Regions from separate parts of the Homo sapiens genome. Here region 1 is linked to region 2. The links come from fine-mapping of genetic effects on gene expression. A gene starts in region 2. The other region holds a variant in brackets. All regions are shown on one strand. Distances are from middle to middle.

Region 1 (2,917 bases), 160 kb after region 2:
AAGTCCTTAATCCATCTTGAGTAGATTTTTGTATAAGGTGAGAGATAAGAATCCAGTGTCATTCTCCTACATGTGGCTAGCCAATTATCCCAGCACCATTTGTTGAAAAGGGTGTCCTTTCCCCTCTTTATGTTTTTGTTTGCTTTGTTGAAGATCAGTTGGCTGTATGTATCTGGGTTTATTTCTGGGTTCTCTATTCTGTTTCATTGGTCTATGTGCCTATTTTTATACCAATACCATGCTGTTTTGGTGACTATGGCCTTACAATATAGTTTGAAATCAGGTAGTGTGATGCCTCCAAATTCGTTCTTTTTGCTTAGTCTTGCTTTGGCTATGTGGGCTATTTTTTGGCTCCATATGAATTTTAGAATTGTTTTCTAATTCTGTGAAGAATGATGGTGGTATTTTTATGGGGATTGTGTTGAATTTATAGATTGCTTTTTGCAGCATGGTCATTTTCACAATATTGATTCTACCCACCCATGAGCCTGGGATGTGTTTCCATTTGTTTGTGTTGTCTGTGATTTCTTTCAGCAGTGCTTTGTAGTTTTCCTTGTAGAGGTCTTTCACCTCCTTGATTAAGTATATTCCTAAGTATTTCCATTTTTTTGCAGCTATTGTAAAAGGAATGAGTTCCTGATTTGATTATCCGCTTGGTCGCTGTTGGTGTATAGAAGAGCTACTGATTTGTGTACATTAATCTTGTATCCGGAAGCTTTGCTGAATTCTTTTATCAGGTTTAGGAGATTTCTGGAGGAGTTTTTAGGGTTTTCGAGGTAAATGATCATATCGTCAGCAAAAAATGACAGTTTGACTTCCTCTTTACCAATTTGGATGCCCTTTATTTCTTTCTCTTGTCTGATTACTCTGGCTAGGACTTCCAGTACTATGTTGAAGAGGAGTAGCGAGAGTGGGCATCCTTGTCTTGTTCCCATTCTCAAAGGGAAAGCTTTCAACTTTTCCCCCATTAGTATTATGTTGGCTGTGGGTTTGTCATAGATGGCTTTTATTACATTGAGGTATGTCCCTTGTATGCCGATTTTGCTGAGAGTTTTAATCATAAAGCGATGCTGGATTTTGTTGAATGCTTTGTCTGCATCTATTGAGATGATCATGAGATTTTTGTTTCTAATTCTATTTATGTGGTGTATCACATCTATTGACTTGCATATGTTAAACCATCCCTGAATCCCTTGTATAAAACCCACTTGGTCATTGTGGATTATCTTTTTGATATGTTGTTGGATTAAGTTAACTAGTATTTTGTTAAGGATTTTACCATCCATGTTCATTAGTGATATCAGTCTGTAATTTTCTTTTTTGGTTATGTTCTTTTCTGGTTTTGGTATTAGGGTGATGCCAGCTTCATAGGATGAATTAGGGAG[G/A]GTTCCTTGTTTCTCTCTCTTGTGGAATAGTGTCAATAGGATTGATACCAATTCTTCTTTGAATGTCTAGTAGAATTCTGCTGTGAATCCCTCTGGTCCTGGACTTTTTTTGTTGGTAATGTTTTAATTACCATTTCAATCTTGCGGCTTGTTATTGGCCTGTTCAGGGTATCTAACTCTTCCTGATTTAAGCTAGGAGGGTTGTATTTTCCAGGAATTTATCCATCTTTTCTAGGTTTTCTTTTTTTCTTTCTTTTTTTTTTTTTTTGACAGAGTCTCGCTCTGTCACACAGGCTGGAGTGCAGTGGCGCAAGCTCCACTCACTGCAAGCTCTACCTCCTGGGTTCACGCCATTCTCCTGCCTCAGCCTCCTGAGTAGCTGGGACTACAGGCACCTGCCACCACACCAGGCTAATTTTTTGTATTTTTAGTAGAGACGGGGTTTCATCGTGTTAGCCAGGATGGTGTCAATCTGCTGACCTCTTGATCCGCCCGCCTAGGCCTCCCAACATCTTTTCTAGGTTTTCTAGTTTATGTGTACAAAGGTGTTCATAGTAGCCTTGAATGATCTTTTGTATTTCAGTGGTGTCAGTTGTAATATCTCCTGTTTCATTTCTTAGTGAGGTTATTTGGATTTTCTCTCTTCTTTTCTTGGTTAATTTTGCTAATGGTCTATCAATTTTATGTATCTTTTCAAAGAACCAGCCTTTTCGTTTCATTTATCTTTTGTATTTTTTTGTTTGTTTGTTTCAATTTCATTTAGTTCTTCTTTAATGTTGGTTATTTCCTTTCTTCTGCTGGGTTTGGGTTTGGTTTGTTCTTGTTTCTCTAGTTCCTTGAGGTGTAACCTTAGAATGTCAGTTTGTGCTGTCAGTCTTTTTGATGTAGATATTTTAGGGCTATGAACTTTCCTCTTAGCACCACCGTTGCTCTATCCCAGGGGTTTTGATAGGTTGTGTCACTATTGTCATTCAGTCTGAAGAATTTTTTAATTTCCATCTTGATTTTGTTTTTGACCCAGTGATCATTCAGGAGCAGATTATTTAATTTCCATATATTCGCATGGTTTTGAAGGTTCCTTTTGGAGTTAATTTTTAGTTTTATTCCACTGTGGTCTAAGAGAGTACTTGATATAATTTTAATTTTCTTAAATTTATTGAGGCTCGTTTTGTGGCCTATCATATGGTCCATCTTGGAGAAAATTCCATGCACTGTTGAATATAATGTGTATTCTGGGGTTGTTGGATGGAATGTTCTGTATGTATCTGTTAAATCCATTTGTTCCAAGGTATAGTTTAAATCCATTTTTCTTTGTTGACTTTCTGTCTTGATGATCTGTCTATCATTGTCAGTGGAGTATTGAAGTCTCTCACTATTATTATGTTGCTGTCTATCTCATTTCTTAGGTCTATTAGTAATTGTTTTATAATTTTGGGAGCTCCAGTTTTAGGTGCATATGTGTTTAGGATTGTGATATTTTCCTGTTGGACAAGGCCTTTAACCATTATATAATGTCCCTCTTTGTCTTTTTT
Region 2 (2,917 bases):
AACTCGGGAGACGGAGGTTGCAGTGAGCTGAGATCTCACCACTGCACTCCAGCCTGGGTGATAGAGTGAGAATCTGTCTCAAAAACAAACAAAAACAAACAAACAAAAAACAATACAATGGCAAGGGAAGAAATAAAAGGAGGGTGTCTAATGTGGTAAGGAGGGAAGGAAAAATGAAGAAAGAAGAAAAACCTATTGAAAATAGCCAAGAAAACAGCTGCCCTTCTAAGATACTGACTTGAGGGCTTTCAAAATAATGGAAATTATGCTTCACAAAAAATAATCCCAATGGTCATGGTCATTAGAATTTAGAACAATATTTATATGGCTCCCTGTGGTGAATCAACAATTATTTTCTATGGCTTCAATTTTCAGAGTTTAAATAATGAACATAGCAATACCACCAAAGAAACATTCATTAAATATCAATATAAAATAAAGTGGAAGAAAAAGAGAAAAACAGCAAGCTGCTGATTGCAGTGTTTGCAACCGAGACTCTGTTCTGCAAACCCTGGGGGATCAGCGTGGATTGAGCTATTACTAGAGGTTGGGGTTAAACACGGTAGGCTATAGACTTTCTGGGGGAGAAACCAGTCAATTTCTATTCTGAAAACCTGGCACTGCCTAAGAAAATCCAAACCCTTCAAACAGAAGCTTCGCAAGAGTGTAGTTAATGGCATAAAAGAGTGCTCAGAAACTCACCCACAGAGACTTTCTGATAGCTGATGCCAGGAACAGCAAAAAGCAGAATGTCCAGTTAGGGATAGTTAACCAAGCCCCTCTCAATTCTTCTTCTTGAGGCTATCCTCTCCTCACTGGTCCCCATTTTATAATCATGCTCAAGGAGCCTAGGCTTCTCTTCTTCTCTTACAGCATGTTTAATATCACTACTTTATCCATTCTGTACTGTTGCAGGCTGAAGGTGACATTACACTTAGAGGGATCCACAGATTCAAGAGGCTGCTTGGGGAGGGCAGCACAGTGAAGTACAAGGACTTTGACATCAGAGAGGCCTGGATTCAAGTCCCAATTTCTGTGTGTGGTAACCAGTCTGCAAGACAGCCTGTGATGGTTCCTGCCTCCTCGTATTCATGTCCTTCTTAGTTCCCTTGCGCATTGAATCAGGGCTGGCTCTGGGTGACCAATAGAATGTGGAGGAAGTGATGGGGTGTGAATTCCGAGGCTAGGTCACAAAAGGCATTGTATCTTCCACCTCTTAGATCTCTCTCTCTGCGGAAGCCAGCCACCGCTCTCCAAGGACTCTCGAGCAGCTCCATCTACAGATTCACATGGAGAAGAATTAAGGGTTCCTGCCAATCACCAGCACCACTTTGCCAGCCTTGTAAGTGGGCCACCTTGGAATTGGAGCCTCCAGTTCCTACTGACATCTGACTGCAACATCATGAGAGACCCTGAGTTTGAACCACCCAGCTGAGCTGCTTCTGAGCTAACCCACTGAAACCGTGAGAAATAATTATTGTTTCAAATCCTAAATTTGGGAGTGATATGTTATATAGCCATATTAACAAGAACTTAACCTAAGTATTGGGGGCATTTAGGGCTGATATTCATTTGGGAGGCACCTGTACAGCTGTATCAATTGTTCAATTATTTAAATATTTCTAAGTTGCTTGGTAAAAAGTCCTGTGCTTGAATTAACCTGATCTTGAATTGCAAGCTCCCTGAGGTGCCTTGCAAAGACAAATCAAATCCTCCTCAGAGGAAGGTAACATTATCCTTGCCCTCAAATTATTTCAACAAGTATTTTACAAATACCATGTTCAGCACACAACCAAAGATAAACTGACATATGGTTAAAAACAGAATGTTTTTAGACACCCAGAAGACATCCTTCACTGAGGGCTTATGTGATAGAAAAATTAAGCATATGATGACAATGGATTCAGTGTATGGCCCGGAGAAAGAAACCAAAAGTTGGGAAAGGTGTAAATGGCCCTAATGGGAAAGGAAAGAGGCTTCCATTGCTTCCCAAGACTGGGACCCATCTCTAAGAATCACAGAGAACAAATCTGTCTCCTTGCTGTTCTCCAGAGGGTAGTTGGACCTCAGATGGGTTAACCAGAGAACCAGGACCCCCAGAGCGCAAACTCCCATTTTTCTGAACATTCCCATGTCCAAGTTTGTCTGGAGAACATCCAAGTTGCCTCTTCAAGGTAGCCGGCGCCATGGACCTTTAAAAGGGACCAAAGTGTTCAGAGGACCAGGAATCCTTACTTGAATGTTCTAGACTGCAAGACACCTAGAGATTCGTAGAAAACATGACTGAGGGAAAGTGCTCCTCTAACCTGAAGGATGGAGACTTAGACCAGCTAGTATCAGATTGAGGGGAAAAAATGAGGTTTTGTTTTTTTTTTCACCAAGTATGTAAAAAAATTAAAACCCACTGTAGAATATTAGCAAGATCTTCAACAAGTCTCTCATTATACAGATGAGGAAATTAAGAACCAGGAGGTTAGAAATTCAGTCCCAGCATGCTGACTCACAGAACATATGTGGACTTTTCTTATACTCCACTGCTCTGATGAATATTGTTAAACACTATTTCTTCCTTACTCTTAGGATATCAGGGCCTTGAATGTCACAGACTACCTGGCACTTGTTTCCCAACAAGCTAATATTGACCCACACAAACTGAAAGCCTCAATTTGACATTATTTGTAGCATCCCCTTGTCCTTTTCTTTCTAAACCCAAATTCCAGTATCCACTGCAACCTTCTAGGTAGGCATCCGCAAAAGGTCTTTCTTCTGATCCTGCCAACTCATCATGGTGCATGGTTTTGAGTAGTGCCATAGAGAATATCTTAATTTCTCTGAGCTTTAGTTAAGAGTGATATACACTGGAAACAAGGAGCTTCCTGCTTCCTCTTTGTAAATTTTGATAAGAGATTCCCCAGTG

Evidence for each region.
Region 1: its variant is fine-mapped to the expression of LINC00658 in nucleus accumbens (GTEx, PIP above 0.99).

What each region holds. Positions count from the first base shown.
Region 1 is chr20:5,284,907-5,287,823 of GRCh38, reverse strand. No RefSeq gene overlaps it. Among named protein-coding and RNA genes, the nearest start is that of PROKR2, 31 kb to the left of the region's middle. The variant G/A (reference allele first, on the strand shown) is at 1,386.
Region 2 is chr20:5,444,050-5,446,966 of GRCh38, reverse strand. It overlaps LINC00658 (long intergenic non-protein coding RNA 658), which reads left to right and starts at 1,219. Exons shown (of 5, transcript NR_038240.1): 1 at 1,219-1,463.